2 linked regions of the Homo sapiens genome follow. The protein of the gene in region 2 interacts with the protein of the main gene of each other region in a pairwise test. Each region holds a gene or a part of one and is shown on either strand. Other genes may lie near its edges.

Region 1 (3,754 bases), about 20 Mb from region 2:
AGCTCACATCTGTAATCCCAGAACTTTGGGAGGCAGAGGTGGGAGGACTGCTTGAGCCCAGGAGTCCGAGACCAGCCTGGGCAACATGGCAAGATCCTCTCTCTACAAAAAAATTTAAAAATTAGCTGGTGTGGTGGCATGCATCTGTAGTTCCAGGATCACTTGACCCTATGAATTCAAGGCTGCAGTGAGCCATGTTTACACCACTGCACTACAACCTTGGCAACAGAACGAGACCCTGTCTCAAAAAAAAAAAAAAAAAAAGAAAAAGAAAAAAGAAAAAAAGAGCTCAAATAACTTTATAGCAAGGAAACAAATAGCCCAATTAAAAAATGGGCAAAAGACCTGAACAAACATTTCTCAAAAGAACACATAAAAATAGCCAACAGTATATGAGAAATGCTCAATATCGCTAATCAACAGGAAAATGAAAAACCAAAACCACAATGAGGTATCACCTCATACCTATTACAATAGCTATCATCAAACAGACAAAAGACATAAAGAAAAGGGAATCCGTACACATTGTTGGTGGGAATATAAATTAGTAAAGCCATTATGGAAAGTAGTATGGAGGCCCCTTAAAAAAAATTTTTAAAAAAGAACTACCAGCAATCCCACTACTGGGTATATATCCAAAGGAAATGAAATCAGTATGATGAAGAGATACCTGTAGGCCCACGTTTGTTGCAGCACTATTCACAATATACAAGATATGGAATCAACCTAAGTATCTATTAACAGATAAGTGTTCATTTCTTGCATGTTAGCTTAAAAAAAAAATTAAAAAACAGATGTGTAAAAAGTAAAAAAAAAACAAAAAACACAGATGAGTAAAAAAAGAAAATATGATATATATATACACAATGGAATACTATTCAGCCACTGAAAGGAGCAAATCCTGTCATTTTCAACACAGATGAACCTGTAGGGCATCATGTTAAGTGTTATAATAAGCCAGGTCCAGAAAGACAAATACAGCATGATCTCACTCATATGTGAATTCTAAAAAGTGTTGATGTCACAGAAGTAGAGAGAAGAATGGTGTTACCAGAGGCTGGGTGGGGGCGTTAGAGGAGAGAGGAGTTTGGGGAGACATTGGCCAAAGCCAAAAGATGCCTAATTACAGTTAGATAGAAAGAATAAGTTCAAGAGATCTACTGCACAACATGGTGATTCTAGTTAATGATGATATATTGGATTCTTGAAAAACATAGGGAGTGAATGTTAAGCACTCTCATCACAAAAAATAACTATGTAAAATAATGCATTTGTTCATTAACTAGATTTAATCATTCCATTATGTATATATACTTTAAAACACGTTGTACATGATACATACAATTTTATGTCATTAAAAAAAGAAGACCGAGATGCTGTTATAGTCTAATAAAATTAATGTATCTCTATATAGCTACTGAAGTGTTTGTGGCATAAAAAGACCATTATTTCCTTATTGTAAGTAAGCATTTATAAAGTAAAAATAAGCCACTTAAAAAACAAAAACTAGGCCAGGCGTGGTGGCTCACGCCTGTAATCCCAGCAATTTGGGAGGCAGAGGTGGGTGGACCACTTCAGGTCAGGAGTTTGAGACCAGCCTGGCCAACATGGTGAAATCCCGTCTCTACTAAAAAATACAAAAAATTAGCCAGGCATGGTGCTGTGCACCTGTAGTCCCAGCTATTTGGGGAGGCTGAGGCAGGAGAATCACTTGAACCTGGGAGGCGGAGGTTGCAGTGAGCCGAGATCGTGCCACTGCACTCCAGCCTGGGCAACAGAGTGTGACTCCATCATACACACACACATACGAAAAAAAACCTATAGTGCCAAACTATCAATAGTTGTAAGATTTGCACTATATTGGCATCTATGTGTAAGAAGGCAGAGGAAAGCTACAATTGATCTGATGAACCAGAAAAAAAATAAACCCAAACAGCCAAAAGGTACTCACTGGACTGCACAGCAAGATGCTGGAGAAAAGCAGCTGAAACTATAAGGGGTTATACATTCTAATACTAAGTGAATACAAGCAGTTCTTTGTAAAATCATAAGAGGTTGGAGTAATCTAGACACTAAGACCTCTTAAAACTAACCAGCCAAAGCTTTCTTTCAGTGCAAAGTCCCACAGTGAGAAGAAATCTTGGGAACACAATCCAAATTGAGCAGGATGAGGGGAGAGAGAGAGGCACCAGAAAAAAGCAGAAGAGAAGAGCCAGGAGATCTCTGAAAAAAGCCACTTTTTGGGGAATATTATACAAAACAACAGAAGAGGGAGCCCTATATAAGAAAAGTTATCCCAAGTATATTTTCTTTAAGTTTAGGAAAATAATTTTCACATAAAAATGGGCAACATAAAAAGGATTATAACTGACTGTGCGTGGTGGCTCACGCCTGTAATCCCAGCACTTTGGAAGGCAAAGGCAGGAGGATTACTTGAGCCCAGGAGTTCAAAACCAGCCTGGGCATCATAGTGTGACTTTGTCTACAAAAAAAATAAACCAGGCATGGTGGTGTATGCCTGTGGTCCCAGCTACTTTGGAGGCTAAGGTGGGAGGATTGCTTAAAGCTGCAGTGAGCTGTGATCACACCATGGCACTCTAGCCTGGGTCACAGAGTGAGACCCTGCCTTGAAAGAAAAGAAAAGAAGAGAAAGAAAAGTATCTATTGTACAAAAAAAAAACTGCAAAATGATAAATCTCAGATAATGTATGCCAGAAAGATATGACCATTATAATCTACTTTTTTTTTTTTGAAGACAGAGTCCTGCTCTGTCACTCAGGCTGAAGTGCAGTGGTGCAATCTTGGCTCACTGCAACCTCCGCCTCCAGGATTCAATCGATCCTCCTGCCTCAGCCTCCAGAGTACCTGGGATTACAGGCAGATGCTGCTAGGCCCAGCTAAATTGTGTTTTTAGTAGAGACGGGATTTCACCATGTTGGCCATGCTAGTCTGGAACTCCTGACCTCAAGTGGTCTGCTCACCTCAACCTCCCAAAGTGCTGGGATTATGGGTGTGAGCCTACCATTTCAAAATGAGCTAAATGGCCAGGCGTGGTGGCTCACGCTCATAATCCCAGCACTTTGGGAGGCTGAGGCAAGCAGATCACTTGAGGTCAGGAGTTCCAGACTAGCCTGGCCAACATGGTGAAACCTTGTCTCTACTAAAAACATGAAAATTAGTTGGGCCTGGCAGCATCCGCCTGTAAGCCCACCTACTCAGGAGGGTGAGGAGGGAGGAACGCTAAAACCTGAGAGGCGGAGGTTGCAGTGAGCACTGTGCCACTGCACTCCAGCCTGGGTGACAGAGTGAGACTTTGTCTTCTCCTCCCCCTGCAAAAAACTCAAATGAGCTAGACATTTTTAAAAAACGATATAAGATGTGAAAGAGCAACAGAAAAAAAATTGAAAATCACAAAAATAAGGTAATAGAACTCAGGAAAGAATTAGACATTTTAAAAATCATTTCATAAAATAAAATTACACTATAAGAGATACAAGGATGAATAAACATAACAAATAATGTCTTAAAGAGTAGGCAAAAAGGAGGATATTTTTAAAAATAAAAAAGAGGCGGGGCACGGTGGCTCATGCCTGTAATCACAACATTTGGGGAGGCCGAAGCAGGCGGATCACGAGTTCAGGAGATCGAGACCATCCTGACTAACATGGTGAAACCCTGTCTCTACTAAAAATACACAAAATTAGCTGGGTGTGGTAGCGGGTGCCTGTAGTCCCAGCTACTCGGGAGGCTGAGG
Region 2 (3,754 bases):
AACTCTTTTTTTTTTTTTTTTTGGGTGGGGGGCATGGAGTCTTGCTCTGTCGCCACGCTGGAGTGCAGTGGCACAGTTCCGACTCACTGCAACCTGTGCCTCCCGGGTTCAAGCAATTCTCCTGCCTCAGCCTCCCAAATAGCTGGGATTACAGGCGTGCGCCACTACGCCTCGCTAATTTTTGTACTTTTAATAGAGACAGGGTTTCACCATGTTGGCCAGGATGGTCTTGATCTCTTGACCTTGTGATCCACCCGCCTCGGCCTCCCAAAGTGCTGGGATTACAGGCGTGAGCCACCACGCCCGGCCAACAACTCTTAATTCTAGGTGACAGGATGACCTGGGCATCTGACGTCCACCACTATCCACCAGGACCGTGCACTGGCCAGGGTCATTTGATGGATTGCTGGTGCCATGCTGTTGATATATTCAATGCTTACTTTTACTTTCTTGAAATGTTTTCATTTCTCTGAATAAAAAAGTCATTGTATATCTTTGTCTTTCAAAATACATATTTTAATGTCTATACTAGAACAGTATCAAAAAAGCCACATCTTTACTTGCAAGAGCCAGGAACTTAAGAGAAAGGTTTCCGGGTGACTCCCAACACTAAGCTTGAAGTCACAAGGAGATTTAAGTTTGGAAGCCTGAGCTTAAAGTCATTTTAAAAAGTAGGAATGGCCGGGTGCAGTTGTTCATACCTGTAGTCTCAACATTTGGGAGGCTGAGGTGAACAGACTGCTTGAGCCCAGGAGTTCGAGACCAGCCTGGGCAACATGGCAAAACCCTATCTCTACAAAAAATACAAAAATTAGCCAGCTGTGGTGGCATGTGTCCAGCGATTCGGGAAGTTGAGGTGGGAGGATCACCTGAACCCTAGAGGTTGAGACTTATCCAAGTCAGGTCATGTTGAGAGTGAAGGCTGCATTACTGTTAATTACATGCAGACAATAATTATAAACCATGACCACCACAGGCAAAACCCAGGACACATGATTACCTTAACTCTAAACCACAAAGCATAGAGAAAGTAGAATATAATGTAAGGTTACTTCCTGTCAGGCAGGTGGAAAATAAAATTTTCCTGTATCAAAAAAGAAGATGAGAGTAACGTAATTTAGACTCAAATGAGAGGTCTGCTCAGGGCACCTCCTGCTCCCATTCCTACATTGGATTCAAAACTCTGGAGGAAGGGAATAGAAACCCGAGATAAACTGAAAATCAAAATGAAACAATGACACGGCAATGTTTAGGCAGAGATGGACTGAGAATCATTCGTTCAATTCAGCCATGTCTTTTAAAACAACTACTAATGTAACAAAGTACAGATGCTTCTGAACTTATGATGGAGGTATGTCCTGAAAAACCCATCATAGATTGAAAATACCAAGAGTCAAAAATGCACTTAATAAACCTAACCTACTGAACATCACAGCTCAGCCGAGCCTACCCTAAATGTGCTCAGAACACTTTTGGTACAGTATTTAGTAAATTACATGAGCTATTCAGCACTTTATTATAAAACAGACATTGTGTTAGATTATTTGGCCCAGCATTGCAAGAGAGTATCACATCACATATTGCTAGCCTGGGAAAAGATCCAAATGCAAAATTTGAAGTACTGTTTCCACTGAATATATATATCACTTTCACACCACCCTAAAGTCGAAAAATCATAAGTTGAACCATAGTAAGTCAGAGAACAAAATCATAAAATCCTTGCCCATGAAATCTCTCAAGGAAACTCTGTCACCCCTCCCTCACTCTGTCCTCTCCATGGAGAAGATCCAGAAGTCTCCACAGACTCTAGAGGGAACTCGGATTAGACAGCCAGCCTGCCTGCCAGGAGATCCCCACTGCTTGTAGGAGGGACCCCTGAGGCAGAGGCTACAGGCAGAGGTTGGAGGGAAAAACAGCTGGAGCTGTGGAAGCCTCAGTGCTCTTGGAGGAGGTTTTCTCCTTGAAGGAGACCCAGTGCCCTTGAGAACTAAGTGAAGGGCTGGTTTAGCAAGGGGGGGACTCTGAGCAGTGACCAGTCCACGATTTCACTATCAATGGACACAGGGAGGACCTGAGGGTCCGTAGGCCAGAGGTTCCCTCTCTGCCTCCATCTTACCACATTTTCCACTGTATTCAGTGAATGAGGAGGAGAATGAGGGGGCCCTAAAAGACTGTGAATTTGTCTAAAAGAATAACTGGAAAGTGACTTGGAAAAGCAACTCAGAAGAGCCTGTTGTTGGTTTTAAACCAGAAGAGACTATATTCTTCTAATGGGAGAGTTTAAGGTTGTTTGTGTCAGATTTTAATTTTTAACCAAACAGAAACAGGTGCTTATGAGCAAGGTGAATGCAGTTATGAACAAGGAAAGAATATTATCTTTCTGCCTTCCTTCATGGTACTTGTAAAGATAGCCTTGCTAAGGAAACTGTCTGGCCCTGTGCTAGATGAGGTACAGGCATCACCTCCTTAAATCCAGGTTTCAGCTCTGTTGGGTCTTTGTGCGGATGAGTAGAGATAACTTCTGCAAAGTGCTCCCAGGAGCCTTGCTTTACTTCTCATCTTACAGATGAGGAAACCAATGCTAAGAAAAGTGACTTGCCCGATTTCACATAGCTAACAATATGTAGCATTGAAAACTTCATATAAGGTATACTCACCTTCAATCCAACATAGCAATAATGTCATCTTCATTCATTCATTCACTTGTTATGTGACTCAGGCTATGCTATGTGCTAAAAGCAGATATAATCGTGACTTCACAGAACATGCCGTCAAGGGGAAGTTTGAGCCAAGAAAACATAATGATGATGATTATGATGTAGTGTGATAAGTTACATGATAGAGAAAGCAGAGGGGTCATGAAGGACCCAGGAGGGGTGCCTTTGCCGGCCCTGAGGAGGGAAGGGAAGAGCTGTGGGAGGAAGAGGCTTCTTAGCTGACATGGGAGGTAGAGGAGAGGGCAGCTAAGCAAGGGAAGGAAGGAGAGGAAGGAGAAGAGAATTTCAGCAAGAGGGAACCACAGGAATGAAGGCCTAGAATTAAGAAAGTTTACTTGAGTAATTGGAAGTAGTTCATTAAGACAAGCATTTAATAGTAATACAGCTGAAAATGACTAGACCTGCTTATAGGATAGCATACACCAAGAGGCCTGTGAAAGAGCCAGAAAGACAGAAGAATTTTGCAGCACTACAAAAGACCAGGAAGAGATTATTTCAAGAAGGAAGTGGTCACTGTGTCTAGTGCTGCCCAGAGGTCAAGCTAGATACAGTCTGAGAAGCAGTCAGTAGATTCAGCAAGCGTTGGCAGGAAGAGTTTTCATGGTGTGATGGGGTTCTAGGTGTCCCATGGTACGTACGGTGGTGAATGAGACTGAATGAAGTGGAAACAGTCATTCAGATGATGCCTGCAACAAATTTGGTAGAGAAAAAAGTAGAGAAATAAGACAGCATAGCTGGAAGGAAACATGAAGCGAGGAAAGAGATTTTTTTTTTTTTTTAAGATAGACTTGGGTAGGGCCAGGCGCAGTTGCTCACACCTGTAATCCCAGCACTTTGGGAGGCCGAGGAGAGCAGATTATGAGGTCAGGAGTTCGAGACCAGCCTGACCAACATGGTGAAACCCCATCTCTACTAAAAATACAAAAATTAGCCAGGTGCAGTGGCATGCGCCTGTAATCCCAGTTACTCAGGAGGCTGAGGCAGGAGAATTGCTTGAATCTGGGAGGTGGAGGTTGCAGTAAGCCAAGATCGCACCA

The links. Proteins that work in one complex are often made in the same cells at the same time.
Region 1: the proteins of RGS8 (region 2) and UHMK1 interact in binary tests that used the Homo sapiens proteins (3 or more experiments, as listed by UniProt).

Annotation. Positions count from the first base shown.
Region 1 is NC_000001.11:162,507,700-162,511,453, reverse strand, and holds part of UHMK1 (serine/threonine-protein kinase Kist), read right to left. Parts: intron 1-3,754. UniProt on the Homo sapiens protein: Upon serum stimulation, phosphorylates CDKN1B/p27Kip1, thus controlling CDKN1B subcellular location and cell cycle progression in G1 phase. May be involved in trafficking and/or processing of RNA.
Region 2 is NC_000001.11:182,649,901-182,653,654, forward strand, and holds part of RGS8 (regulator of G-protein signaling 8), read right to left. Parts: intron 1-3,754. UniProt on the Homo sapiens protein: Regulates G protein-coupled receptor signaling cascades, including signaling via muscarinic acetylcholine receptor CHRM2 and dopamine receptor DRD2.